Homo sapiens: one gene and its partners. The main gene of each other region encodes a partner of the protein of the gene in region 3 in a complex. Each region holds a gene or a part of one and is shown on either strand. Other genes may lie near its edges. A codon is read from its position in the direction of its gene.

Evidence for each region.
Region 1: the proteins of ASF1A (region 3) and CDAN1 are in contact, whole or in part, in a cryo-EM structure (PDB 9CVC), measured with the Homo sapiens proteins. Residues at the interface, in NP_054753.1 of Homo sapiens: Gln5 (codon at 4,006), Val6 (codon at 4,003), Asn7 (codon at 4,000), Asn8 (codon at 3,997), Val9 (codon at 3,994), Val10 (codon at 3,991), Val11 (codon at 3,988), Leu12 (codon at 3,985), Asp13 (codon at 3,982), Pro15 (codon at 3,976), Asn20 (codon at 3,961), Pro21 (codon at 3,958), Phe28 (codon at 3,937), Asp37, Val45, Ser47, Ala48, Glu49, Ser50, Glu51, Glu52, Asp54, Asp58, Ser59, Val60, Leu61, Val62, Gly63, Pro64, Val65; in NP_612486.2 of Homo sapiens: Arg195 (codon at 3,370), Arg196 (codon at 3,367), Ile197 (codon at 3,364), Asn198 (codon at 3,361), Thr200 (codon at 3,355), Val202 (codon at 3,349), Lys390 (codon at 1,620), Leu391 (codon at 1,617), His470, Glu471, Glu472, Pro473, Gly474, Trp475, Asp476, Lys538, Arg541, Arg544, Leu545, Gln546, Arg548, Leu549, Met550, Ala551, Pro552, Gln553, Ser554, Ser555, Arg806, Lys807.
Region 2: the proteins of ASF1A (region 3) and TLK2 are in contact, whole or in part, in a crystal structure (PDB 7LO0), measured with the Homo sapiens proteins. Residues at the interface, in NP_054753.1 of Homo sapiens: Val45, Ala48, Glu49, Glu51, Asp54, Asp88, Val92, Thr93, Val94, Leu96, Arg108, Gly110, Tyr111, Tyr112, Arg145, Thr147, Phe149; in NP_001271262.1 of Homo sapiens: Arg11, Arg12, Gln13, Leu15, Leu16, Glu17, Arg19, Phe20, Thr21, Gly22, Val23.

Annotation. Positions count from the first base shown.
Region 1 is NC_000015.10:42,732,696-42,742,807, forward strand, and holds the start of CDAN1 (codanin-1), read right to left. Parts: upstream 4,434-10,112; 5' UTR 4,408-4,433; coding exon 4,318-4,407; coding exon of another isoform or gene 4,294-4,317; intron 4,086-4,293; coding exon 3,607-4,085; intron 3,387-3,606; coding exon of another isoform or gene 3,384-3,386; coding exon 3,180-3,383; intron 2,985-3,179; coding exon 2,815-2,984; intron 2,680-2,814; coding exon 2,566-2,679; intron 2,484-2,565; coding exon 2,405-2,483; intron 1,652-2,404; coding exon 1,531-1,651; intron 1,353-1,530; coding exon 1,243-1,352; intron 492-1,242; coding exon 402-491; intron 1-401. UniProt on the Homo sapiens protein: May act as a negative regulator of ASF1 in chromatin assembly.
Region 2 is NC_000017.11:62,571,418-62,580,823, forward strand, and holds part of TLK2 (serine/threonine-protein kinase tousled-like 2), read left to right. Parts: intron 1-1,797; coding exon 1,798-1,950; intron 1,951-2,927; coding exon of another isoform or gene 2,928-2,993; intron 2,994-5,291; coding exon 5,292-5,358; intron 5,359-7,059; coding exon 7,060-7,157; intron 7,158-8,693; coding exon 8,694-8,775; intron 8,776-9,406. UniProt on the Homo sapiens protein: Serine/threonine-protein kinase involved in the process of chromatin assembly and probably also DNA replication, transcription, repair, and chromosome segregation. Phosphorylates the chromatin assembly factors ASF1A and ASF1B.
Region 3 is NC_000006.12:118,888,156-118,898,431, reverse strand, and holds the start of ASF1A (histone chaperone ASF1A), read right to left. Parts: upstream 4,281-10,276; 5' UTR 4,019-4,280; coding exon 3,910-4,018; coding exon of another isoform or gene 3,107-3,909; intron 1-3,106. UniProt on the Homo sapiens protein: Histone chaperone that facilitates histone deposition and histone exchange and removal during nucleosome assembly and disassembly.

The DNA of each region.
Region 1 (10,112 bases), on a different chromosome or scaffold from region 3:
GATGACTGGACTGAGGTTCGCGTTCTGAGCCCAGGCATCTACCTGCACAGTGACCAGACTTGCCCAAATTAGAGGATGGAGAAGATGGAGGCTGGATGTGTCTAAGCAGTGACTTGGGCCAAAAAAACCTCAAGCAACCTGAGTTAAGAGCTTTGGACTTTCTAAGCAATTGCCACTACAGAACAAGGATAAGACACCTGTGAGTGGAAGGAGCTGGAGAGACACATCCCTTTCGAATAGAGGCAGAGTTATCAATAACTAAAGAGATTTCGGAGGATAGTAGAAAACAGCTAATGGCTGGTAGGAGCGGGGAAAACCTTCCCTCCTCCTCCCTCCTGCCACCGAGCAAGCACTGAGCTACTCATTGCCAGGAACAAGAAAGACAAGGTCTGAGCACCCACCTGATTCTGCTGCCCAAGCCCTTCTCAAAATCCCAGCCAGGCTCCTCATGGTGATCTTCCCACTCTCGCAGCACCTCATAAAACACATCCCTGACGCATAAGAACGCCTGATCAGCCGAGGCACTCACTCCCACCAGTGCCTTCCTGCCCCTGGAAGAACTATCCGTAGCCCACCCACCACCTTTTTTTTTTTTGGAGATGGAGTCTTGCTCTTGTCACTCAGGCTGGATTGCAATGACGCGATCTCAGCTCACTGCAACCTCCGCCCCGCCTGGGTTCAAGCGATTCTCCTGCCTCAGCCTCCAGAGTAGCTGGGATTACAAGTGCCCACCACCACGCCTGGCTAATTTTTGTATTTTTAGTAGAGACGGAGTTTCACCATGTTGGCCCGGCTGGTCTCAAACTCCTGACCTCAGGTGATCCGCCCCTCGGCCTCCTGAAGTGCTAGGATTACAGGCGTGAGCCACCACACCCGGCCAGCAGCCCCATTTTTAAATTTCTCCAGAGTTCTCTATATGATGACAGTAGTGCTACAGACCAGCAGCACATTACAGGCTTCATGTACTTCTGTGGGCAGTGACAGTTCATCCTGGCACACTCTTGCTTGAGAACCCTGAGACTAAAACCATACACCTGTGAGATGGCTTGCTAAGCGCCGGGGTTCACAGATGCACATGAGAATGAAGCCAGGTGGTCCCTATGATGGCCGGCAGGAAGGACCTGGGGGGACTAACCCACCACCTGTTGGTGCCAAACTCCTAATTTCTATGAAACCAAACAGCTGCCTATTCCAGAAAAATGTCATCTCATTCCCTCCCCAAAAAGTCCCTTTTCTTATCACCTCTGTTTCTTAAAAGTATGAAAGGCTCGGTCACTGGAGAAGTTGGCACGATTGTCAGTCTCTGGCTGAAAGGAGACAGCTTGAGTAGAGGGAGGCATCACCAGAGAGACCTAAAATACAGCAGGAACGTTAGGAACTGCAGGGTCATGCTGAGAAAACTTCTCCCTCTTATTCTTGCCCAGAGTTAGCTCACATTACACTGAAGTGTCGTCAGCAGGGTTGCCTGAATTTATGAAAGCTAGGAAGGGTTAGGTCCAGGCTAGTGGGCAACTAAGCTGGGGTTACTACCTTGGCAACACTGCCCTCATAGGCAGCTCGAAGGCGGCCTTGCAGAGCTGGTGAGAAGCACAGCAGCCGCTCATTCTCAGCCAGCAGCTTCAAGGTCCCTTTGTCCAGGTTGGAAAGAACCCTGCAGGGACAAGAGCACCTATGACTGAGACCAGAACACAGACTGCAAGTAGGAAGCAAGCACCTGCACACCACAGAGGATCTCTAAGGCATGGCGCAGGTATGCAAGCCCAGATATGTACTGCAAGGTCATGGGCCAAGGATCAAAGATAATGAAAGTCAAGGGGAGGATATGAGACTTTACAGAGCAAGGACCAAGACAGCAGGACAGGAACATTACCCAGAAACCAAAGCTCAGCTGCCAAGACCACAGGGGTCCATTTCTTTTTCTTTTTTTTTGAGATGGGGGTCTCTGTCACCCAGGCTGGGCTGGGCGTCACCCAGGCTGCAGTGGCGTGATCTCACTACAGCCTGGACCTCCCAGGCTCAGGAGATCCTTCCACCTCAGCCTCCTAAGTAGCTGGGATTATAGGCGCACTCCCCCACACCCGGCCTTTTTTTTTTTTTTTTTTTGGTGGAGATGGGATTTTGTCATGTTGCCCAGGCTGGTCTAAAACTCCTGGGCCTAAGTCACTGTCCTGCCTCGGCCTCTCAAAGTGGTGGGAATGCAGGCGTGAGCCACCACACCTGGCCCGATCTCAATTCTTTCAGGGACTACATTCATAGCCTTAACACAAAATTAAAGAAAGATTATAGGTAGGAGAAGGTCCAGGACCACTGCCCCTGTGTTAAGCACCAGCATATATCCCAAGCAGCCAGAGAGCTAAGCAGATGATGAGAATGAGGCCCAAATGCCTCAGCCAGGGAAACTCACTGAAAGTGACACTCCAAAACCTGCACTGCAAAGAAGACACAATCGTGGATGCTTTGGAACAGTGGACTTTCCAGGGAATCTAGAAGGACAGTACCAAGCTGTCAGTTAAGAACGGTCCCGTTTCTAGACCCCATGTCTCAAAAGGAGGCTTGCTCACTGACCTAGGACAGCTGGACTTAGTTCAGGGTCGCTGTCCTTGGCAGTCACCATCCTCCGGGCAGTGAGGAGCTGAAAGACGAAGAAAAGCTCCAAGAAGAGGTTTGGTACCAGGTTCTCTAGATAGATACAAAAAGAAAGCCCATGGTATGGGCACCATTTGGAGCCAAGGCTCAGTTCCAAGTGCCTTACCAATTCTCTTACCCATAAGTTCTACAAGTGTCTCCACTCCCGCTCCCTCCGCTCTCACTCACCAGCAATGCACGAGGAGTAAACAAGGGCTACAAGCTCCAGGCGCTGGCGGGAAGACACTCTGGCAGGGTCTGCAGGTTCATCTGTGAGGCTTCCTGTCCGGCTGGGGAGGGGCGACCCCAATTCTGGGGTGGGACAGGTGGGGGTAGGTGACTGCTGCAGCTGCTTAGAGCTATGGAATAAAGAAATTTCATGAGCAGTCAGCTTGGCTTCCCTGCTACGGCCACACTCAGGTCACTCCAGAGAAGATACCAACAGCCCAGGAGACAAACCCAGAGTCCCCAAGAGGGAAATCAATTTCAGGGAAAACCCCTGAAGATCCCCCACAGCGAGGAAACCGATATCCCCAGGAGCGGCCAGGCCATACCGCTCCTTCCTGAGCATCTCTCGCTCCTCTTGCAGACTTCTGCACCCTGGGGGAAGGCCAAGGCCCCAAGGGCTAGTGTCCAGGGCTGAGGGTTGGGAACTGGGGACACAGCTGATTGGGGGTGAGGTGAAGCAGGTCTTGGGCTTGGAGAGTGACCGCTCTTCGCTCACCGGAGTTGGGTTGATCCTGCGAGAAGGCTTCGTCCTGCTGAGAGTAGCCACAGGTTTTTCTCAAATTCCTATCTTCAAACATCTCCCCTCCACCACCGCAACAGCTAGACCTCTTGCCAAAAAACCCCACAAAAACCCTCACCATCACCCCCAGCCTTCTACCCATCCTGGCGCTCCACTGCGGAGCGCCGAGCTCGAATGACTGACTCCCCAGAGCCTTCGTGGTACCCATCTCCTGCATGAGAGCTGAGTCTCACCCTGTAGGGCCGGGGGGAACCGAGCCTACGGGAGGGAACTCCTCCAGGTTGCTGAGGTTTGGCGGATCAGACAGCGTGAGGCTGGGGCGGCTGGGGCTGCCAGAGCCCCTAAGCCTCCGGCCCCCGGCTCCGGGCAGGCTCTCCCCGCTGACCCCCTCCTCCAGGCCGCGGCCTCCACGCTCGCGGGCCGGCCCCGGGCCCCGCCTCCTGCCCCCGCGGCGGGCCAGAGGGGCCTCGGCAGCGGTGCTCTGGGCCTCGGTCGGAGGGAAAAGCTGGCTGCGCGCCCCGCGGCTACCCCGCGGCGGGCCTCCCGGCCTCCCTGGCAAGGCTGCCGAGGCGCCCGGGGTCTTGGCGGGGGTCGGGGGCCCCTGCGGGAGGACGCGGCTGCTCTGCTCCCTCAGGAAGTTCAACAGGAACGGTACGAATTCTTTCCGCAGGGCCCGGAGTGAGCTCAGCGCGGCCGCCTCCCCAGCGTTATCCTAGGGCAGAAGCACAGGTGGAGGGGCGAGAGGGTCAGCCGCCGGCCCGCGGGCCGTGAGCAGCCGGGGCCGTAGGGCGCGCCTCGGGTGGGCGGCCCGGGCAGCGGCGCCCAGTTGGAGTGCACTCGGCCCGGCTGGCAGCCAGGCGCCCTAGAGGAAGGGGACTGGAGGGCTGGACTCCACTGCGGGAACCGGCTTCGAGTCAGACCTGGGGGCGTGTCACCGCTGTTACCTCCGAACCCTGGGTGCTGCGCGCGATCCACCGCACGACGGCTGCGACCGACACCTCTTCTCGCAGCAGCGACTCCAAAACGGCCGCCATCCCGGTCGGGGCGCTCTGGGGCGACTGCGCAGGCGCCGGCGCGCCGCGGGCGGCCAGGGAGGGGCGGGGCCGGCGGCGGGGAACGACCGTTGGGTCGCGGGATGGGGAGGGACCCGGCTGGCGGGGCGGGGCGGAGCCGGCTGTTGCCCAGACCCACGGAGTCAAGGCCTCGCTGAGTCCTCAACCCCGGCCGAGAGGCCGGTTGTTAGGAGGTGAAATGTGGATCACAGCGCCTGGGGAGGCCCACCTTGGCTGCCCGCCCTGGAGCGACCTGAAGGGAGGGATTCGAGCTGGGAGTGGGGCTGCCGCGGGTCGGACGCCCCTCTAGGGAGACCCAGGACCCGGGAGAGAGGTAGAGGGGAGCAGAGACAGCCACCAGCTTCTATCTTCTGCTCTAAGCACATTCTTTCACGAGTTTAAGTTTCCTAGATCCAACTGGCACCACCCCAGAGAAATTATAATCTAATCTTTCATTTTGACTTTGTTCTTCTCAAAGGCCGATTTTTCAATCCCTTGGCCGAGCAGTACCCATCGGCTTTTCAGCGCTCACCATCAACTGACCATTTAGGAAAGAATTATTTCTAGGAGGTTCTTAATAATCCCCAAGCCACAACCCTTAAAGTGCCTCGGGCCACCCTGCACACAGAATTGCTTGTATGTAGCTTTATTTACTTAAGTGGGTTTACATGAGGTTAATATTTCAACTACTTTGCAGTTTAGATGTCAGTAAGCATATCATGATTAGCTTCTGGGAGCTTGAGGTTTGTATTTTTGGGTTTGGTGTTTTTTGTTTTTGTTTTGTTTTTTTTGAGACAGGGTCTTGCTCTGTTGCCCAGGCTGGAGTGCAGTGGCGTGAGCACGGCTCACTGCAGCCTTGGCCTCCTGGGCTCAAGCAATCCTCCCGACTCAGCCTCCCTAGGGCTATAGCCCAGCTAATGTTTTGGCCGGGAGAGGGCAGCAGATCCAAAGTGCTGGGATTATAGGCGTGGGCCACCACGCCCGGCCTGAGTAATTTCTTAATCTCCTTTATTTAATTTTATTTTGAGATGGAGTCTCGCTCTGTCACCCCCGGGGCTGGAATGCAGTGGGAGGCAGAGGTGGGCGGATCACGAGGTCGAGAGATGGAGACCATCCTGGCCAACATGGTGAAACCGTGTCTCTAATAAAAATACAAAAATTAACTGGGCGTGGTGGCACGCGCCTGTAGTCCTAGCTACTGGGGAGGCTGAGGCAGGAGAATCGCTTGAACCTGGGAGGCGGAGGTTGCAGTGATCCAAGATCACGCCACTGCACTCCAGCCTGGGTGACAGAGCGAGACTCCATCTCAAAAACAAAACAAAACAAAAAAACCTGAGAGAGGATTTTGAAGGTTGCTGCTCAGTGACAAATCAAGCAAGGGAATCCAAGCGGAGAAAAACAGATGGCACGAACATTCCATGTCAAACCAAACCAGGAGGGGTGAGGCAGTGCCCTTGTGAATGCCTCCTGAGAGTTGCTCTGGTTCAAAGGAAGGTTACGGGCGGAAGGATGAGGGTGGGGGTGCAGGAATCTCTCTAGTGGCAGAAGGGGTATTTCCTATGGAGAAGGAAAAAGTACCTCCAGCCAGACAGAATAATGGACTAAAAAGGAGCTTTTAATATTTTAATTTTATTACAGGAAAACATCTCCTAACTGCAGGGACACTTAACACCTAGCTTCTATTCAGTCCTGGGCTGCTTTTTCTAGGGAACTTCTAGATGTGGTACTGCATTTACAGTAACACTATCTGCTCCCCGTTGATCTTGTAACATCTGGTGTATTCAATAACTTTATTAAATTAGAAAAATATTTTCCACTTTTGAAATCCAGACCATCACACAAACAGAACTAGATTTTGCATGCGGAATGAATATTTTATTACTAGGTTATAAAAATAAAATACAAAATAATTTTAAAACAGAACTTAAAACACTGTACAAAGCTTTAATATGATACAAATGGGAAAATTAAATAAATAATTACACTTTTATGTACAGGTGGCCTATACAAAAGCACTCCATGTTTCTGCCGATACTCTGTCCTTGGTTGCCTGAGCAAAATTGTATAAAGGGAGCTGCTTGGAGGGGAAAGGAACACAATAAAACGCCTCTGGAGGTATTTCAAAGAGTAGTTTCTCATCTCTCTGATTTCAGGAAGAGGAGAAGAGAGGGAGAGAAAAGTGGAATTATTAAAGTCATCTAACTCATTGGTCTTGTTCAACAAGAAAGAATTCTGGTTTGTGGCTGAATCTGATTTAACAGCTGCCAATAGCTCATTACTTCTAAGATGTATATCTAATTCAAAACTAGATGCTCCCCCCTCCCTCTTTTTTCCCTAAAAGCTGGGAACTTGTAAGTAAATGGCCTAGTGAAATAGACACTGGCTATTTTAGAAAAAGGGTCAGAAGGTAGACCAGGAACTATGTATCAAGGAGAAGTAAGTGAGGCTCAAGCCCAGGCCACCTAGGCTGTGTTTATTCAGTCCACCCAATCCAATGTCAAAGCCCCAAGTGGGCCAGTGTTACCTTTATCTTCCCATCTTTGTATTTCTGAAAGCTTTGTCACCTCAGTGGACTACTTTGGCTGATGAACAGTTCAAATAGAAGATTGTTTTGGAAAAAGTCCCAAGGGCTTTCCCCTTCCTGGGTAGCTCCCTATAAGTCAAATTCAAGTTCTGGTAGCCTTGTTTACCCCTTGTAGGCGAGTGAAGAATGCCCACACAGAGTTCAGATGTGGTGAAATGCTGGGCATTGATTCCTCAGGATTTAAACTGCATATTATTAGAGAAAAAGAGCATCATATGGCAAGGGTAGTCTATATAAAAACTTGGTTTACTCAATGTTTTTAATTAGGCGAGTGAACACTTATGTACATAATATTAAATAATATTAAACTAATAAAAAGAGAGGTAAAATTCCTATCCATTGTTATTGTAAAATTATATCATCAGCAAATTCTATAGTCACATGGGCTCAAAGATCTGCCTCATCCAATCTTGTTCCCTAGGTCAAGGAACCCAGAGCCAGGGTACCTGGGAGGCATGGTCAGCATCGCCAGTGTACATATATTCTGTGCCCATACTACCACTAACGCTTCCAGCTGAAGAGGAGGCAGAAAACCGTTACATTGCACAGGGCCATGAAAGGAAAGGCTTCACTACTTTTACATGTTACCTTAAGACCAAAGATCCAGCAAAGTCTAAGGAAATATCCTAATCATTACTGTGTAATGTTACTTTTTTGCTATTCAGTGTCTTGAGATTGTGTGGAAATTCAAGGTGACCTGATCTTGTCACATACTTTAATTTTCTGATCCAAATTTGCTGAAAGGGAATAATTAAACATCAAGCTTAAATATTTTTTTAAGTAGGAGCAGACAATCACAACTGAATTAGAAGACGTCTTAATGGGCATAGACTTTATTTTTGTTTTACTTTTTTTTTTTTTTTTTTTTGAGACGGAGTCTCACTCTGTCGCCCAGGCTGGAGTGCAGTGGGGCGATCTTGGCTTACTGTAATCTTCTGCCTCCCAGGTTCAAGCGATTCTCCTGCCTCAGCCTCCTGAGCATCTGGGACTACAGGCGCCCGCCACCATGCCCAGCTAATTTTTTGTATTTTCAGTAGAGACGGGGTTTCACCCTGTTAGCCAGGATGGTCTCGATCTCCTCACCTCGTGATCTGCCCGCCTCAGCCTCCCAAAGAGCTGGGATTACAGGCATGAGCCACTGCGCCTGGCCTTGTTTTACTTTTTAAAATTTCTGTGAGCTGCTCTAGAAAACTAAAGGACGAAAACTTTACTGTCATAATTCCAAGTTCAGTCAGGGATTTCTCAGAATTGAGGTGTGCAGCATCCAGATTCCCCTTTATGTGGATAGGGATCCCTGTGCCATGTCTTGCACTTACCTAAGAACTATAGGAATTCTCCATGTACCTCCTACAGTTTTTCTAGCAGTGTTGGACAATGGATTCTAAAGGTTCCTGAGACTTTGTTAAATTTCTCATAATTCCAGAGGGAAGGCCAAAATATTGAGAATACTCAATGATAGGATGAGTTTCCACTCTACTTCCTTATCCTCAAGGCACACACCAGAGTTCCACTGGGTGAGGACAGGGAAGTAGGATGTCCCAACACCCTCTGAGGGTTTTCATGCATTAATCCCGCCATATGGGCTGATGGTTGGAACTGCCTTTAGTTCTCTAAGTAAAGGTCTAAAAATGCACCTGTGGTTTCTGAACTTGGGTATACGCTGATACATAAGGACTACCATAGAAGTTACATGCCTTAATCCTGTAATACTTTTGTGTGGTATCATTCTGCTAATATATTGTCCACAGGGCCAAACCCCAAGTTACACAGCGCAACAGTACTTGTCAACCACTCCATCTCCTCAGTGACACAGGTGCTAAAGTACCTCTCCCCTGAGGCAAAGTCCCGACACATCTGTGGTAAGTGCACATAAACAGAAATGGGCAGATTTTGAAAGTGAATGCAAACAACTTAATTCCAAAATACATAAACATGACAGAAGAAGTGGTTCTCTAACATATGCCATGTTTGATCAATATAAAGAATAAGTTTTTAAAATATAAAAGACTTTGATCTCCAAGACTAAATCTAGACTTATCTGCAAATAAGTAAATTTTCAAACAGCCAGGGGAAAATGCATTTTTTTCACCGAGTCTCACTAAATCATTCTGAATTCTGGATCCTGCTTCTCGTATCACCAATTCCTAATGTTAGGAATGTAGAACTGTCTGCTCTTGGGGAAAAAAAAAGCATCTGTTTTTAATTCAAAGCTCTGGGTATAGAAAAACTAATTATGGTTTTAGCTATCTGTGTCTGGGTTTATAAAACATGCACCAATGTACACTTTCTCCTTGTAGATTGAATGCAACTATAGAAGTATTAGCATAAAAATATGTGGCCTGGAAGGAATCTCTGAAGATACTGAAGAACCTCAAGTTCCCTACATTGCTAGGAGCCAAGGGAAGGAGACACTGTACACCTAGAGCGCTGAATTAGCAGCTGAGGTTTTAGTATTTGAAAGCAAATAATATAAAGCGAGTAATGTCTACAGTGGGTCTCAGTTACCATTTGGCTACTTATTTAGGACTCGATTAACTTGGCAACTTTTACAAAAAACATTCACATCACAACATGCAACTTAAAAAACAGTTAATGTAACTATGCCACTGTCAGCAAGGCCAGCTTGCATACCAGAGTTAAGAATGAGAGTGTCTGTCTGCCTAGGGCTTAACATTCAAAGATATTTATAATCTGTGTTTTAAGGTTAAATTTTATATGACCCAGTTTTCCTTCTTTGTTCACTATACACTAAAATTAAACGCCTCTACGCTGTGCAAGAAATCACTATGTGTGATTTTACTATTTCAACCAATCCATAGACCCTGAGGATTTGGCAGCAGAATTCAGGAGAAATGCTACCTAAAGTGATTGAGCTGTTGCTAATTCTACCTTCTGTTCCACTCAAGTACCTCCAGGGACTAACAAGGGAAGGCAAGGGCAACTGTGACTGACTAGGTAACCAGCTATTCTGTTGTGACAGAAGAAACCAGGTAATACTTGATTTTCAAAAGATAATTTTAACTGCTGCCCTATACTACTTTTAGTATAGTTTGGCTTGACCTTAATAGCCATGTCCCTCATCTTAGATAGAATAACCAAATTG
Region 2 (9,406 bases), on a different chromosome or scaffold from region 3:
GCCATCTTTTTTTTTTCGTGTATTTTCAATCTGCAGTTGGTTGAATCCATGGATATGGAGAGCCATCCTTATATGTGTTCTGTGAGTAGGGATGAGGAGGTCTAGCTAATAATCAAAAAGAATTTTCAGGCAAACAGAAAACTCTTGAATTATCATTTTCATTTTGCTGTTCGATTGATGTCTAATCAGTGACCTGGCTCATCTTGAAGCCAAGGGCATAGTATTATCAAGTGACTGGCTGTTTCTTTGTAATACTCTGATTAGGTTAATTTTGCATACAGCATTGCCCTTCTAGATATGTTCGAATAAACTGTATTGTGGGTATCTACCTTAGAGTAATCTTGGTTTTCTGCTTGTCGTTCTTCCACGAAAGATACTGTACTGAATCTGGAAAAGATCTGACAGCAATGTTCAGGGAAGAGGGTAGAGCAACTTCCATTTGAGTGTAGGTTTTAAAAAATTAGATTTTGCCGGGCACGGTGGCTCATGCCTGTAATCCCAGCACTTTGGGAGGCTGAGGCGGGTGGATCACTTGAAGTCAAGAGTTTGAGACCAGCCTAGCCAACATGATGAAACCCTGTCTCTACTAAAACAATACAAAAATTAACTGGGCATGGTGGCGCACACCTGTAATCCCAGCTATTAGGGAGGCTGAGGCACGAGAATCACTTGAACTTGGGAGACAGAGCTTGCAGTGAGCTGAGAGCTGAGATCGTGCCACTGCATCCCAGCCTGGGCAACAGAGTGAGGCTCTGTCTCAAAAAAAAAAAAAAAAAAGATTTATTATTCCACAAAAATGAAGGTTGGTTCCACAAAAGAGAATGTGTGGAAAAGCACAGTAGAGGAAGAAGGAGAAGGGAGCTATCATTTGATTGTCAATTATAGTGGGTGACTTAAAGACTAACCTGTTAGATGGTTAATCTCCAATTTTGTATGTTTTTATATACCAAGTCTGTAAACCTTAATATCTGTTAGGTGGTAGGATACATGAGAGAAAGTGTTTTTTTTTTTTACAATGGAGTTTTTATTGGTCCCTAATTTGTAAACTAGTTAATCACAGAAAAATGTGACATCTTATTAGGAAATACTCTAATGGTAATGGTGTTAGATTAACTGCAGTTGTAAAATATGTTTTATACTAATTCATTTTGTATACTATTCCCTAAGGAGTTCTTACTAGTTGGAAGACTTCGTTGTGCTTTCTCCAAATGTATTTTTCTTTTAAAAACTTAATCTAGGTGTCACTGTATCAGTGGGCGGGGTTGACGTGTAGAGTAGTAATGGCTCCCTTAGACTAGAATAAAGGATAGGTCTAAAAAGAAAATCTTGTTTACTTTCTTTAGCATCCTACAAACTTGGTATCTTTTTACGTAAAACTGAGAAGCTTTCATCCAAAGAAAAATAAAATAGAACTTGGAACTTTTTACAACTTTTAAAATACGATTTACTTTTAATGGGTTCAGATCAGAGAATTGTTTCCTTAGCTGTTAAAAAGGAATCAGAAAATTGTTCCTTCTGAGTCAGAAAATAAGGTCACAATAGAAATTTGATATGTTCCTTCCTGTCCACTCTGAAAATAGTAATAACTAGTGTCTTAAAGCACAGACTCATTCCCAGAAAACATCTATCACCAATTATTTGGCCCTTCCAATCTGAAGTTAAAATCAAATCTCTACTTGACTTAAAGGGGCTTATTTTTTCTGAAATTGGATACACAAGTGACAAATTGTGTGTGTTCCATAGCTGTGGTAAAACTTTTGACTTTCTTTCTTTGTACAACGTCTTTTATATCTCTAGGCAACAGGAAAGGATAAATTCACAGAGGGAAGAGATAGAAAGACAACGGAAAATGTTAGCAAAGCGGAAACCTCCTGCCATGGGTCAGGCCCCTCCTGCAACCAATGAGCAGAAACAGCGGAAAAGCAAGACCAATGGAGCTGAAAATGAAACGTATGTTCTTTATTGACGTGAACGCTGAGACACCACACCCTGCCCCCAAATACAAATGTTGATTGTCACCGGCAATAGTTTTAAATTCTTGAGGTCACTCAGGTTTAAACCTTCTTTTCAGTTACATTAATGGATTTGCTCAACTCATATAAATGCCATATAAAATTAATTGATTTTCTTAAACCTGCTCTTTCTTTAGGGCATTTTGAATGAGAGGGAAAAGTAATGTCACTTGACATCATGACTTTTGGCCACTCCTGGTTAACAAATAAGATGTCATTGTACTGAAATGATATTATTGCTTACATGTGGCTGCAGGGTGTGGTACACTAGTATCATCTTATGGGAGTTACCTGGCTGTTATTTCAGACTGAAGAATGCTCTTTACTGGTCAAAAGAGCACTTAGTTAATAGTCACAAACTTAGGATAAGCCCCCCAGAAAGCTGTTATGTTAGAAAAGGACATTGTCCCAATAAGCCACAACTTGATCTCATCAGAATTGTTTCCTGTTCTGGGAATCTAAGGAAAACACCAGTATCTTAAACTGCAGTACAGTCATCTTTTTCTCTGTCACTCAACAATATTTACATAGCTACCATATATAGGAGGAGTAGAAAATTCTAAGCACAAATGCCTGCCTTCTCCATTCTTCTCTTCCTTTCTGTTTAACTGAAAGTAAGTTTCAAGTCCAAAGATAGCTGCAGATAAAAGATATATAACTTATCAACTAATATGTCATTTGCTTTATGTTTTCATATTAGTTCACAAAAACAACACATAATCCACTTCAGGTATAATAATACTTGTATTATATTATTGTTAAAAGTCTGTGGCATCCTAGAAGTGCATCTTCTTTCATTCTAGTGAGAAAGATGGCTTAACACCAATCCTCACCCCATACATATCTGATGTTTTGGGAAGTCTCTTCCTTGATGTTCGTTTAGTAAGTTTATGTTAAATGCTTATTTTATGCTAGGCCCTCTTCTGGGAATACAGAGCTAAAGGATACAGCCCCAGCCTTAGGAGCCCACAGTTTACTTAGGTGAGATGAACAGACGAATAAACTAATAATTACATTAAGTATAGCGATAAAAATGTGCATAATGAACTTGGAAAACATCTTCATTCATATAACTCCAAATTTTGTTGTTGTTGTTTTTTTTTTTTGAGACGAAGTCTCACTCCGTCGCCCAGGCCAGAGTGCAGTGGTGCTATCTCGGCTCACTGAAACCTGTCTTCTGGGTTCAAGCGTTTCTCCTGCCTCAGCCTCCTGAGTAGCTGGGACTACAGGCGTGCACCACCATGCCCAGCTAGTTTTTGTATTTTTAGTAGAGATGGAGTTTCTCCATGTTGGCCAGGCTGGTCTTGAACTCCTGACCTCAAATGATCCACCCTCCTCGGCCTCCCAAAGTGCTGGGATTACAGGTGCGAGCTACTGCACCCAGCCCAAATGTTACAAAACTAGAGTCTTGTTTTCCCTTGATTTTAAAGACTAGTCAAGTGCAATAATGAGAATGAGAAGAGGGGAAGAGTATTGAGTCTTAAATATAAAGTATTTTCCTTTCAGCAAGTCCAAGTAGGGGCTCAAATTTGAAAGATTGTCCAGGCTAATTAATCTGACCAATGTTTTCTTTCATGACTCCTGTGTGTATTTTGTGAAGGGACTTTCCCTCTAGTATTATTTGAAAATTATTTAATGCTAATGCACAAAACCATTGGCTTAGGAGTGATAAAGAAAGCATAGGTTGTTTCTTTGCCACAGAAGAATAATTAGAATGCAATCTAGGCTAGTAATGTGTAAGCAATTGCTATCTGGTGTCCTGTGTAAAATCCAATCTGGAAGACTTTCAGTCCAGTTTTTAATTAGAGTATCTGTGACTTGGCTCTTACTTTGACCAGAAGCCAGAAGTAGGCCTCTGGGGTCTTGGAGTGAGCCATATTATCCTTTCTTGGCCCCGAACCTGTTTCAGACAGAGAATTCTTAGCCATCATTTTTAATTTTTCTGTTTTTCGCTGGTGTGGAATGGAGTAATAGATACAGGTATTTCTGCATCTGTAAAGAGATAGCCCTAGTGGGTGAGTTTCTTCTTCTTTCTATTTTTTCTTGAGTTAGACCTCAAAGGCTCTGTTCTGGTTGATAGGATAGATATTTCCCCTTTCTTCTGCTATTTAGAATATATCTAAACAGTGATATCTAAAAATATTAAATATCTATATGCTTCTAGAATGCGAAGAAGGTAGAGATGGAAGAAAAAATAATTCTCACTTGTTCATCTTTTTTTCTTTTATTTTCTTTCTTTCTGTCTTTCTCTCTCTCTCTCTTTCTTTTCTTTTCTTTTCTTTCTTGAGACAGAGCCTTGCTCTGTTGCTTGGGCTGGAGTGCAGTGACATGATTATAGCTCACTATAGCCTCAACCTTCTGGGCTCAAGCAATCCTTCCATCTCAGCCTCCTGAGTAGCTGGGACTACAGGCATGTGCCACCATGCCCAGCTTCTTTCTTCTTTTTTTCACAGAGACAGAGTGTTGCTTTGTTGCCCAGGCTGGTCTCAAACTCCTGGCTCCAAGTCCTTCCCGCTCAGCTTCCCAGAGTACTGGGATTACAGTGAGCCACCAAGCCTGGCCACTTGTTCATTCTTGAGATGTAAGGATGCTGTTGGAGTAGTTGGAACATGAAACACATGACTACCCATCAAGTCAGCCCTTTGAGAGTTGATTTAAATAGCATTTTCAATATTCTTTATATGTTGTCATTTAATAGTCACTCTTTCTTAGATAGGTATTATCACTTGCTGCATTTCAGGAAACTGAGTTAAAGAGGTTAAATTTGCTTGCGCAAGGTCACATGGCCAGTAGCTTAGTAGTGCTTTGAACCCTAGTCCTCAGACTCCAAATCCTAGACTCTAATTTGCTGCTATATCTTTCTCTTTGTTATTACAGTATCAAGGTTTAAGTATTAACAAGAATAATCAAATCCATTGGCTTATTGTTTTGCCCTCTAAAAAATTTTTAGAGAATTTTTGGCTGTCTCTGAATGAGTTTTTATCTTAGTAATATATGGCACAAAACTCATTTCAAAAATAATATAAAAATATGGCTCACTTTTTTTTCTTTTTTATGTTTTGCAAATTAGACTTCTGGCTTTGAAGTTCTTCCCTCACATCACATCTGGTAAATCACAGAAGTTTTCTCTTGTCAGAGGACTACAAGATAACCCATCTTTCAGTCATTTTAACTGAGACTGAAACTGAATATGTCTTATAGTATATTTGAGCATTTCTCTTTAAACAGGCAAACTATGATTTCTAGTAGTTTACTGAAACTTTTACCACTGTTTTTCAGGTTAACGTTAGCAGAATACCATGAACAAGAAGAAATCTTCAAACTCAGATTAGGTCATCTTAAAAAGGTAAGTATAATGAGAAAATCTCCCTGGAGAAATGTGATACCTAGTTTAAATTTGGGGTTGAAGCTATTTGGTCATTTGGGTGAATGTAATAGTAGCTGCACATAGCAGCAGAAAGCTTCAGTGACTGCTTTCACTGTCATGTCTTGTAGCCTAATGGTAGAACTCATATTTTTCCATTTTCTTTCTTCTTCTTTTTTTTTTTTTTGAGTTGGAGTCTCACTGTGTCTCCCAGGCTGGAGTGCAGTGGCACGATCTTGGCTCACTGCAACCTCCACCTCCCGGGCTCAAGCGATTCTCGTGTCTCAGCCTCCTGACTAGCTGGGATTACAGGCACGTGCCACCATACCCAGCTAATTTTTGTATTTTTAGTAGAGACGGGGGTCTCACCATTAGGCTGGTCTCGAACTCCTGACCTCAAGTAATCCTCCTGCCTCGGCCTCCCAAAGTGCTGGGATTACGGGTTACAGGTGTGAGCCACCATGCCTGGCCTATCTTTGCATTTTCAAGTCAATTCCAGCAACCCAATGACAGTGTTTTTCCCCCTAGTGATCTATCAGCAGATAATTCTGTACACATCATAAGGCTTCCCAAGTGGTTATCCTTGGAGTAAAATTTAAATATATAACAAGAGCAGATGGTTTTGAAATTGATGTGAAGACTCCTGTCATATTTCAAATCACATAGCAGCTCTTATTCCTTGCCTAAACTAGCTAAAAAGAGAAAGTGTTATGTGAACCTTATTCAAATACAAAGGCACATAACATAGAATTTGTTATTGATGATGTTCACTGAGATATCTTAGATGTGGATTACTCAGCTCTTAAAATTCAGAAGCCCATACATTGGTCGATGCTCTTTATAGGTGATAATGGTCAGTAAAGATTTACTAAACTGCTTTTGGTATGTGTGCTTTTGTTTTTTATTTCACATATTAGTTTTCATGCTGTTTTCCCACTGGGTTCTCAGAGCTTGTTAAATAAGTAGAACTTGCTGGGGATGGTGGCTCACACCTGTAATGCCAGCACTTTGGGAGGCTGTGGTGGGTGGATCACCTGAGGTCAGGAGTTCAAGACCAGCCTGCCCAGCATGGTGAAACCCCGACTCTACTAAAAATACAAAAAATTAGCTGGGCGTGGTGGCATGTACCTGTAATCCCAGCTACTCGGGAGGCTGAGGCAGGAGAATCACTTGGACCTGGGAGGCGGAGGTTGCAGTGAACCGAGATCGTGCCATTGCACTCCAGCCTGGGTGACAACAGCGAAACTCCATCTTAAAAAATAAAAATAAGTAGAACTTAAGTCACCAAGTGTAATCCATACTTAAAGATGAGAACCGAACCAGATAGATAACCTGATTTTTGTAAAAAATGTTTCCATGTCTAAATGTATATGCACAAAACATTCCTGAAAACTTATGTAAGAAACTTAATAGTGGTTATTACATCTCAGGAGTGGGCATGGAGAGGAGGGAGGAGGAGGGTAGGGAACTTTTACTTTTCTTACTGAACTCCTCTGTATGGTTTGAATTTTATTATTTTCTATGGGCTCATTTTTATGATTAAAATTCTTAAAGAAATCTTTCAATGCAAAGCACCTTCCTTTAGCCTTTCATAAGATAAATGTCTGCTATTGTTTTTGAAATAAGATCCCGAAAAGGTAAAGTTCCCCCTATTTTGTGCTATTTCTTTCCTTTTCGCTTTAGGAGGAAGCAGAGATCCAGGCAGAGCTGGAGAGACTAGAAAGGGTTAGAAATCTACATATCAGGGAACTAAAAAGGATACATAATGAAGATAATTCACAGTAAGCTACTTCAGGGCATATTGGGTTGGAGATTGCTAAGCATTTTATGATATGAATTGAATGGTCTAGAATAATGTGTTTGCTTAATGTAAGTTACATAAATGATTCCATGGTGTATTTAGCTCTTTTGTAGCATCTAATACAATTTTGTGAACAAAATTATGATTTGCCTTGGTTTAAATATACAATTGTATTAAATTTATATATTAAGTATATATGTGTATACATATAGCATTTTTACATGAATAAAGATTACTAAAACAATATGGCTTTGTAATTGTAAATGGTTGAGATATGTTGCATATTCAGATTTTCCTACAGAGCCTTAAGAAAGGGAAGATGGGTCACAGTGTGGTGTTGTGGAAAGAGTATTGGGTTGAGATGACACTCGGTTTCTGAATGACCTTTAAGGGCTATTCAGGTGTTGAGATTTTAAGTAAGACTCTTAAGTTCAGTACATTAATTGTAGATGAATTGAAACTGGGAAAAGTAGGTTGAAAGTAGAAAGGGGTTTTTATAAGTAATCTGTTTTTTCCCCATATTTTTTGGACCCTGAAACATTTTTTCATAAAGCCATAGCTTGTATATTTTTGTTTGGCTTATATGAGCTTTGGACCTGTCTTTCTGTTAAAGTGGCAGACAACAGCAGGTACCACTTCCTGAGAGCTCTCTGTGTATCAGGCTTGGTCCTAAGTGCCCTTAGTGCTCTCATTTAATCCGCAGGATAACCCAGTCATCTTTAATACATTAATCAGAAAACAAGCTTAGAGAAATTAAATTAACTTGCCCAGGGACCCATAAATAATGTGACCAAAGAGTTCAACTTGGATCTTTTTCATCTAAACCACCATGCAGTAATGTCTCTCCAGATAGGCATCCTACTTTCTTAAAATCCATGTAAAGTAATTTCAGAATTAATAGTGAGATTGTTTAAGATCAGGAACTAGGTAAAAATATTTTTAAATTTGTTTTTGCCAGAACTTGTCATTTCTTTATCATATTATTAAGAAAATACCCAAGGTAGAGTCTAATATGGGGAACACAGTTATATCTGTCTTAAAGAGAGAATAATGAATGCACATAGAACATGTGACTCACTTTAAAATCAAATCTGTTTTTAAGGAAATAGCAAGTGTCTTGGAATTTTACTGTATGTAGTTTTGAAATGGTGGGAACATGTGGCCCTTGAATAGTTTGGAGGAGCCAAATAGCACAATCTAAAAATCTCTAATCTACCCTCCCTCATTGTATAGCAGGGCAGAAAAAAGGAGGAGGAGCAAGAAAGGTCTAGTGTAGCTACACTGAGACCAGCACCCAAGTCCTGTGGCTCTATAGCTGGTGCTGTTCATTGTAATTACACTGCCTCTTTGAACTGTGTAACTTTATACTCAGTATTTGCCATGTTGATGTTGATTGTCAAACTACCAACAGCAGCTATAATTATATGTATAATGTGTTAGATATTCTGGGAATTTTGCAAGCGTGGAAGACTGTAGTCCATGATCTCAGGGTGTTACATGTTCCCTGTTTCCACAGATTTAAAGATCATCCAACGCTAAATGACAGATATTTGTTGTTACATCTTTTGGGTAGAGGAGGTTTCAGTGAAGTTTACAAGGTAAGTATAAGGAACTGGATACAAAGACTGGGGGTTAAATTATCGGCTCCTACCAACTTGGAGAACATTAAGAATACTGATAATTGTAGGTTGATATCCATTGGTTGAAATTCAAAAACTTTAAAAACCTGTATCTTTGGGAAAACAGCTTTCAATAAACCTAAGTGACCAAGCAGAATACAGTATTGCCATTTTCAAGTTTGAAAAATAAATAATTATAGATTTAAAAAACAAGAAGGAAATATACTGGGTCGTGGAATTATGATTTTTATTCTGGTTCTGTACTTCCTGCCTCATACATATTTGTTAGAAAAAAGTATGTGCTATCTTTCTTTCTTTTACAGAATAGATGTGTCAAACCTGTTTCCAATAAGAATAGGTTTTTTTCCATTGGAAAACCTGCTTTTTGTTTTAGAAGTGTTCTAATATCATTTACTAGCACTGGCAGTCTGAAAGAGTGTCCTGGCTTAGAGTGCTTCAGTTGGGCTAGCGAAGTACAGGCTGCTGAGCTTCCAGGTTGATTTTTACCAAATGAGGGATTCAATATGTTTTAAATATAGCTACAGATCCATAACATGTGGGTTTGATTTTTCTACGTGTTTCTGGCACCTGTCTGTAAAGTACAGAATTG
Region 3 (10,276 bases):
AAAAAATTATTACATAAAGGTTTTCATGAATTTTAATTTCATATATAATTGTATCACTACATATAATGCCCTTGATCCTAAGTGGTATAAATTCGCATTTGTGGACTGGCATAGGAACATAGCCATAATTTATAAACCTATTTTAGAAAATACCTACTATATACTGGGCATTAGTTCTACTTCATACCTATTGTTTAAACCTCAACAGCTTCATCATGTAGATCAAATTATCCCCATTATGCAAATAACTTGAGACTCTGAGAGGTTAAGTAATCTACACAAATTCATAATTTGTACATCAAAGAATCAGAATCCAAGCTATGCCTCTGTAACTACAAACCCCGGGCTTCTTCTGAAAACCTAACTGGGAAGATAAATTCTTTCTAGCTCTGAAATTAGCAGTGGAATAAGGGAATTTATTTGCAGGGGAAGTGAGAGCAGAGGAGATGGAGAGAGAATCTAGCCTTAACAAGAACAGGCTGCAACTCAGGGAACACTTGTACATTGATTTTTATGTTTATGGGATGCTTGCTACAGTTGCTGAGTTTTACATGCTCAATACCCTTTTATACATTGGCATCAGTTTTTTTGTTGTTTTTTTTTTTAACCCAGCTTTCATTTAATTCCTCTGCCCCCTGTATTTGAGGGAGGAAGGGTAAGGTCAGATGTTTTACATAAGTTCTCAGGTGAAGAAATTTGTTCATTTATTTTAAAGTTAACTTTTATTTAATCACAGTAATCATGATTAAATGATTTACCCAGCCTGAAAGTATTTACATTTGTGGTGAAAGAGTGAGTGAATGAGGGAAGTCATCAAGAGAATTTTTAGCTAATTACACTACTTGGGAAGACCTGTGGTCTAGTGGAAAGTATGTAGGCTTTGGAATTAGAACAAGCTGAAGTTGGAAAGTATGAAGCACCATGCTCAATTCTGGTATATTATAAGTATTCAATTGACAGTAGCTGTAATTAAGATATATATATATATAAATTTAAGAATGGCAGGATGGTCAATCAAAACTTGTACAGTCTTGGTGACCATCAAGCACATCCAGCCAGGGTCTCAGGCTGTCTTAACCCTTGATATAAGCCCTATATTAGAAAGAACCAAATTATCTTAAGACCAAATATTCCTCAAGGCTTTTTCTGAAGCAAAGCTACAGGGCAGCTCTTAAAGGAAAGTGAACGTTTGGGGCTACTGATGAAAGTATGAAAAACGGTGGCCAAACTCTGCTTTGAGACTTGAGGCAAAATAACTTATTAAGAAAATTCTTTTCAAAATATTCTATAGTTTGGGCTGGGTGCAGTGGGCTCACTATAATCACAACACTATGGGAGGCAGGGGTGGGAGGACTGCTTGAGCCCAGGGGTTCGAGACCAGCTTGGGCAACATGGCAAAACTCCGTCTCTACAAAAAATTAAAAAATTAGCCCAATGTGGTGGCACATCGACTATGGTCCCAGCTATTCAGGAGGCTAAGGTGGGAGGATTGCTTAAGCCCAGGTTGAGGCTGCAGGGAGCAGCTGTGTTTGCACCACTGTACTCCATCCAGCCTGAGTGCCAGAGCAACACTGTCTCATTTAAAAAAAAAAAAATTCTATAGTTTAATTTTAAGAACAGAATTTTTAAAAGAACTGTAATATAAAAGTATGGAACCTATTAGAAGCCTTTGCTAAGTAAAAATTTCCTTAATCCACATAGCCTCTAGGTGGAGTATACAGGCATGGCACCTTTTTGAAAGATTCCTTTGCAGCTTCAGTATGACTCAGCTTAAAATATTTTTTAAAATACTAAATAAATGCTCAGTAATGGTGCCTAGGAAGTGAAATATACCATTGGAAATAAGTATGTTTTTGACACCAGTACTGTAAATCCCTGATGTGATTCAGCTGGGTTCTGAATGGATCCCAGTTAAAAATGGAACGTTTTGGCTTTATGAATGGCTGGTTTCATCTATGCAATGTAAAAGCCCTGTAACGACATCCTGAGTCATCTATCTTCTTTGTTCAGAGCTGACTCCTAAAATGGAAGGCAACACTTGAGAAATACCTGTAATTTGAAGAACTTCTGGTGGTATATCTGAAAAACAGTGTGGTATAAGTTGGAATGGACCGATCAATGGTTTTTCTTTTGTCTATTTTTATATGCAGTTGGCAATAAAAAAAAAATTACTGTTGGGTGTGAAAAATGGGCCTGGTAGCTGCAATGCTTATATTAATAGTAGTATCATAGGAGAGTAATCAAATGACTTCAGAGTAATAAGAAAAATACCCCTTAGTGTTATCAATGGCCTATTTGAAATTATTTTAATAAATGAATCATCTTTCAAAATTTGCCCTATATATGTATGTGCATTTATGCTCTATATAGGTTTAAAAAAAAAAAAAAAACGGGGGCACATGTTAAAGTAATAATTGTGATTACCGAAAGGAGATAGGGCAAGGCACTGAGTACAGAGAACTGTTAACTTTATATATGCCTGTACAACTTTCTAAAAGTTTATTACAATGAATATATATTGTTTTATAATTAAAATTAACCTTACATATGATATATACATTTTAGAGATTAAAAACTAGTTTTTAAAATGAAAAGTTTTACATGCCACGATTACCTAAATCATCTTCAATGCATTTTTTACATATACTTCTAGTTCAAAGTATGTCCCTCATCGATGAAGTTAAACTATTTCCCCTTCAAAACTGGCAAATGAAGCACTGAATTACTTTAGTAAAAGATAATTAAAGCAAAGATAATTGTCGTTTTAGCTTTCTAAATATTTATTACTAAAGATATTAAAAATACGTATTTTTAAGACCTTAAAATATATGTAGAAAAAATACCAAGAATTCTTGGACTGACATGAGGAGTTGACCTTAATTTCCTAGCCTACGTTTGTGTTTTATGTTTAGGGTGTGTTCTGTATTTGGATGTGGAGTTATTTTAGATTTCAACACGGTCTTGAAGAAAGTCTTCCTTCAGACTATTTATAAGGCAGAGATTAAGTCCTGGAAATTATTTAAGTATCTTATTTCTGCTTTTAGGTTAAATGTAACTTCCTACCTCAGCTCTATTTCTCTTCCTGAAATTAGCTTTTCGTCATTAGGGGAAAGGAGTCCACGTTGGTTGGGGAGCCTGCGCGCCAGCATCCCGGCGCATCCCGGGCGCCGGCCGAGGAGGACCGGCCGAACAGGACCCACGGCCCCCGGGGAGCGCCGGCGCCCAGCCCGCGGCGCGGAGGGGCCGAGCCTGCGCCCGCCTCCCCCGCTGGTTGGTCGAGGAAGCCAGAAATCAGCGCGAGGACAGCCTCGCTCTCCTCCCCGAAGCGGCCAGGCATGGCCAGCCCGGAGAGTGCGGCGACTCCACCGTGAGCTCTCGAGAGTGCCTGCCTGCCTTTCGCCGGGGGCAGGCGGGCGGCGGGGCAAGAGGAGGCGCCGTGCGCCGGGGTCGCTGGCCCAATTCTCGACTCGGGGTAAGATGGCTCCGCTCCGAACTCGCCGGCGCGACCACACGCACAGCCTCTCCCTTCCCAGCCTCCGTGCTCGGGCCCGGAGGGTCGCGGAGGCTGTTGGCGGCGCGGAGCCAGCCCGGCGCGACCTCAGGCGGCGCAGCGGGAGCGAGTGCGGGTCTCCGAGCTGCCCGCCCGCAGACAAAGCTGACAACATGGCTACCTCCGCTCCTCCGCTCAAACAAGTTCCTCGCAAGTTGAGCCCGGCAGGCGCCTGGGCTGCGGCGGAAAGCCGCGCGCGCCTCGGCGGCCGTCGTCCATCAACTTCAAGTTTCCCTCCGCAGAGCAGCCCGCGGCCGCCAGGCGCCGAACACAGCCGCCCAGCGCGAGGCCCGGCCCGGGAAACTTTCAACGTCTGCAGCCCGCAACTGACAGCCCGGGCGCACGGGCGCCGCACTCACCTTCAGACAGGTCCTCGATGCACTCGAAGGTGATCTCGAACTGGAACGGGTTGTAGAAAGGAGAAGGGTTATCCAGCACCACTACATTGTTCACCTGAACCTTTGCCATATTTTGAAAAAAACACAAACAATGGGAACTGGGGCTGGTTGCGGCACAATAAAGTCCAGCGCGCGGCCGCTCGGGAGAGCGCAGACCCCCGCTCCAGCGCCGGCCAGACGTCGTGCAGCGGCGACTTGAGAAACTTTTTTCCTCTTTTTATTTACACGGGAGCACTCCACAGTGTTTTGCAGCTTTCCTATTTCACTAAACTACAGCCCATTCTGCTCTGATAAGTAGCAGCGTTGCCCTCGATTGGCTGCACCCGAGTTCTGACCCTCCTCCTCCAGCGAGGGCCTCGGCAGCCAGCAAGATGGGCTCCCGCTCCCGGAATGGACTCGGAAACTTTAACTGCGGCTCCACCTGCTGGTGTGGATTAGGACAAAGGCGGAGAACAAAGTGAGTGGAATAAGGGCTGGGAGGCCCGCGCGGAGGCCGCCGGCGGCGGCGCGGAGAGGGGCGGAGGGGGCGTGGCCGCGGCGGGGAGGCGTGGCTGCGGCGGGAGGGCGCGATCCGGCCGACGCCCGCCCCTCCAGTTGGCTTCGTGTGGGTGTTTTGGCGTTTTTTTGTTTTTTTTTTTGTTTTTTTGGTTTTTTGATTTAACGCTCTTTTTACATCAGTGCAACAGCTTTGCCGGCCTTGCTGAATTTAGCAGATGAGAGTCGGTGTTTACACTGGGTTAGGTTCAGCTTTCTGCGTATCGGGTAGTATTTGGAGTAGAGAGAAAGATTGGCTGCAGGGGAAATAAATTGCATGTTATAGACCGATGTCAGCTCGAAAGGAGCAAAGCCATTTTGGAAATCTAGCTCTTGGCCAGTATCTACGTTTAGGCACGACAGCGCCGTTAAGCAACACAAAATGAAGGGCGAGGAATGATTTTCTACACACTGTGCTTGGAAAATTTAAATAGGTAACCTTTGGGCTTGCACCTGGGCGTCTTCTTCGGAGTCCAGATCTGGGAAGTCCTAGAATAAAAAAAAATCACAAGAGGTGTGATCAGTTATACTTCAGGTTACTGCCATTTGGAGAGCATAGCAGGAACATAAAAGGAGAAAATGGAAGTGTTAGGAGACCAACAGGGCAACAAACGTAATAGAGATGGGAAAAAGAACACAAAGACATAGCAAGACATTTGATCTTCAAAAAAATTTCTGACCTAAACCGTTAGTAAAGCAAATTCTGAGGAGCCCTTGCTTGCCTGTAACCAGTTGAGGTCTGAACTGAGGAAATGTTGATTCGTTTATGCTGCTTGGCTACCATTGCGGGGAAAGAGAAAGCTTTAACATATTTGTGAGCCTAAACCGTTTCTATTTAGTAAGTGGTATAAAGGTTTGTTTTATTATCTGCTAGCCATAAACCATCATTTTTTTCCTTAAATGTTGTGAATGAAACCACCAAACTTGGCCAAATTCAGAGAGAAAATTAATTCTTAAGTATGTGTTCTGGAAGAGTTTTCTCTTAGTATAGTGCCCAGAATTTTGATTTGTCATTCTTTGGTCATTGTTCATACTTAAGTAGGTGGCTTTTGATGAAACGTTTTCATCTGATGGTCTTTTGAAAGTTAATGTGAGACAGCTAATGTCAACCCCTCGTACATTTAGGAAAACCGGTTAGAGTGGGGAAGAGTTCCCTTTTTTTGTCAGTGGATTGAACAGTTAGATATAGGACCTACCAAAAAACACTTCTTCAAGCCAGTTGTTTGTGACATTAGAGTATTAAGAGTCAAACCATGGTGATAGACACAGATTTTTGTGGCTGATAAACAACATACTCTTCATTCTTATTAGTGCTGGTCCTAACACTAGCAGATAAAGTGGAAATTGCTGTATGCTGTAAGACACTCTGTATATGTAAGATAAAATGACCATTTGAAGATTAAAACTCCTGTGAGACTGGTGTATGCAGTTGTCTGATTATTACAGGTACTCTTAAGAGGAGAGTCTAGTCAGTCTCATGAAAACGACATTTTATGCTTGTTAAAATCACGTGCATTTTGCAGTCTGACCGTAAGTGTTACAATGAGACTAGTTGTAAAACTCACTTTTGGTGGATGTGCAGCATGAAGGACTGAGAAGATCTACCTGAATGCCACTAATTTGGCTTATTTTCTTTAAAATTTTTTGTTTAACACATCATATGCAACAGTATTTAAGAAGAAAAAACTCCCCAACATTTCACTGGAAGCTGCAAGAATTAGCTCCAGGCTTCTCCTGTCTTAACTCTTGTATTATTGCTTGTCAGAAATACTAAAGGGTCGTTGAGCACTTTGTTCAATAGTTTCCTCACCATTGATACTACCTTACTCCAGGAGAGACCGAAAGGATTCCTCAGATATGTCCTGGCATATTTCTAATTTAACTGGTATGCTGTAGGAAAAAAAGAATTGTGAAAGCCTCTCTCTGGTTTCAGAGGCAATCAGTAGGACTTGTTGCTGAACAACTTTGGTGACTCCCAAACATCTAATTGTACAACAGATGGGTCACTGTGAATGTCTTTATTAAGTACCCAAGGGGGTCCCACATAATGTTTGGAGGGCTGCATGGAATGTAATCCCCCAATCACTTCTCACTATGGGTTACTTGGGGGAAGGATGGCTGAGAGAGATTTTATCGGCTCTAAGATGAACAGAACAAAGCCTAAACTAGTGCTTAGGGCAGAAATACATGAAACTAGTTAGTTGTTGTTTTAGACTGAATTATGTCTCCCCCAAATTCGTATGTTGAAGCACTAATCCCTAGTACCTCAGAATGTGACTGTATTTGGAGATTAAGTTAAATGAGGTGATTGGGGTGGGCCCTAATCTAATCTAGCTGGCGTCCTCACAAGGGGAAATTTAGATTTACAGAGAAGCACAAGGGTCACACGCACACAGAGGAAACACAGCAAAAAGGTGGCCATTTGCAAGCCAAGCAAAGAGGCTTTAGAATAAACCAAACCTGCCAACACCTTGATCTTGGATTTCTAGCTTCCAGAACTGTGAGAAAGTAAATTTCTATTGTTTAAGCCACCCAGTGAGTGATATTTTGTTATGGCAGCTCTAACAACCTAATATAGCTATAAGATATTTTTCCCCTCAGAATTAAGCTTATTTGAGCATCTAATCTTACTGAATCCAAATATTGGTCAGTTCCCAAGCACTTCCTGTGGGTGAAATGATGTGGTCCTTTAGCCATGCCAGTAAGGGTGTGGCGTATGTGGAGTGGTGTGCTGTTGCCATTCTTCAGAGGAAGTATATACCACTGGGCATATAGCTTGAATTCTGAAGACACAAGATGCAGCTTACTTGCATGGATTCAAGACTCCTCTACAGAGAAGTGAAACTTGAAGTCAAATTGAGGTCATACACAAAACAAGATGAAAGAGCGAATTCAAATATACTAAAATTGAATTAAATCAAAATGTGCCAAATTAAAATACATTAGAACTAGGAATTAAATTGAGTGTCAGCCCGTGTCTACTGCAAAAGTTATCATAGGAATGGAAGTACTAACCTCTAGCTTTTGTTCAAATCTAGATTTCCACCTCGGGTAATCACTGTGTTGAATTGTCTTCTCATTTGTATTATTACCAACTTAAAAAAATTCCTCATGTAAGGCTTGTTTTAATATGGTCTTTAGTTAGTTTAAGAGGCTCCTTTTTATTTATTAGAAATAGGATGTCAAAATTTAATGATAGTTTTAAATAAAATTTTCTGTATAAATATAGACTAGAGATTTGATGGAGTTCATAGACATTTCTAAATGGAGTAAATTGTACAATAATGATTTCAATAATAATTCATTACATACATACAGAGAGCATTTGTTATGTGAAATTTTTATGCTAGGCTCTGTGAGAAATAGTCAAAGATAAGACATACAAAGACCTTATGGTTCAGTAGGAAAGGTAACTAATCAAATAAGTATGATGCGAAATAGAAAGTGTTAGATGCACCTGTAACCAGTTATGTTAAAATAGGCAAAAGAAAAAATGTTTTCTTGACAATTTGTAAAAAACTTTAAAATACCTGTTTTTGAGCCTCACAAACAGGAATGGCAGGAGGGTAAGATATCATCCCATATAACAAATGAGGATGCTGCTGCTCAGAAACCCATTCCTCTGATGGCTGTCCTAGTACCTTTGTACTCTCTACCATGTCAAGTAAATTTTAAAGTGGGCTTTGTATGTAGAAAAAATAGATTGGTATCATTTTCTGGAAGAACCCACAGGCTGGCGGACACTCCAGTAATGACTTGATTAATGAACTCTTGAGGAACAAAGCTCCATTAATGAGGTTGGTCCAGGTGTATACTGGGAGAGAGAAGGAGACCCAGCCAAGGCAAAGCTGGGGGAGGCTCCCCACGGGGTACTACAGATGTCAAGCCTCCTGTTGAAAAAGGCATCCCTTGGAAGGTGTGGGGGATGGAGCTACACATCCTGGAATGCATCCTTATACTTTTTATAAGGTTTCCATGTCTGTTACATAGCGTACCCTCTCCCCTTCTCTGCTCCACGTCATTAATAAAAGTTTCACTGTTTTGTGTTCTTTTCTACCCATCATTGTGTTAGAAGTTTGTTGAAGGTATAAGCTATATCTGATCCCTTATCCATAGCTGGACTATACTGTAAAACACCTTTTGCATAGCCATAGGTTACATCAGTCAGCTTTCTGAAGCACTGTAATTACATTTATTGACAGTTTCTTGGTGTGTATATCATTATGTTGTTTTTGACCATTTTGAAGGGAAATGCCTAATAATTATTTTCTGTTTCTTATACCTAGTTTTTTGTCTGTGTCTTCTTAGTCCTCTTATCAATCAAGGTCTTTCTAAACTCGTTTCCTCTTGAACTCAAGTCTCTACTTGCAGTCCATCTTCCTTCATGTTTTATAATATATTCCATCCTTTTCTCTCTAACCCTCTACTGCTCTCATTCATCAGAGGTTCACTTTTTAATACCAGGAAAAAAAACAGTAATCGGTAGAGAGGACTCAAATCTTTAAAACATCTCTAGGCTAGACCACTGCTCGTACAAAGCCATTACTAAGCATAGCAGCTTTTCTAGTTGGTTACTATAGAGACAAATGACATTAGATGGAGTGACGCTTGGCAGAAGCTAGGCATGTAGGCTTTGTGAGATTGGAGGCCTCATATGCATGGTCATTTAGAAAGAGTCAAAAACCAGAAAGGATAGGGAGGGGAAATGCTTCACAAATGAGCTAATAGGTAATTAATTGGTAGAAATTTGGTTGGTAGAATTTGTGCCTGATAAGGCTTTGAATCCGGCATGCAAAGAATCCACCTCTAAGTACCCCCTGGTATGATTACACAGTAATATTTTTCAGGTAACAGCTTTGTTGAGATAGAATTCACATAACATGTAATTCACTCATTTGAAGCATCTGAGTCAATAGTTTTTAGAATATTCAGAGGTGTGCAACCATCATCACAATCAATTTTAGAGTATTTTCATGATCTCAAAAAGAAGCTTTGTAGCCTTTAGCACATCCCCCTCCCCAGCATATCCCCCAAGCAGTAGGCAAGCACTGAATTACTTTTTGTCTCTATAGTTTTGCCTATTCTAGACATTTCATATAAACGGAATCTTATAATATGTAGTCTTTTATGACCAGCATCTTTGAAGCATAATGTTTTTGATGCTTCTTTCATGTTGTGTTATATATTGATGCTTTATTCCTTTTTATTACCCAATAATTTTCCATTGTATAGGTATACCACGTTTTATTTATCTGTCAGTTGATGGACATCTAGGTGGTTTCTACTTTTTGGCTATTACACAAAATGCTGCTATTAACATATGTGTACAAATTTTTGCATGGGATGGGACAAATGTTTTCATTTTTCTAGGTTTATGCTTAGGAGTGGAATTGCTGGGTAAGATATTGTAACTCCTTTTTAGGAGCTACCAGACTGGTTTTCTGTTTGTTTGTCTGTTTGTTTTGAGACGAGTCTCACTCTGTCACCCAGGCTGGAGTGCAGTGGCGTGATCTCGGCTCACTGCAAGCTCTGCCTCCCAGGTTCACACCATTCTCCTGCCTTAGCCTCCCGAGTAGCTGGGACTACAGGCGCCCGCCACCACACCCGGCTAATTTTTTTGTATTTTTAGTAGAGACGGGGTTTTACGGTGTTAGCCAGGATGGTCTCGATCTACTGACCTTGTGATCCGCCCACCTCTGCCTCCCAAAGTGCTGGGATTACAGGCATGAGCCACCATGCCCGGCCACCAGACTGTTTTTTAAAGCAGGTGTACCATTTTACATTCCCACCAGCA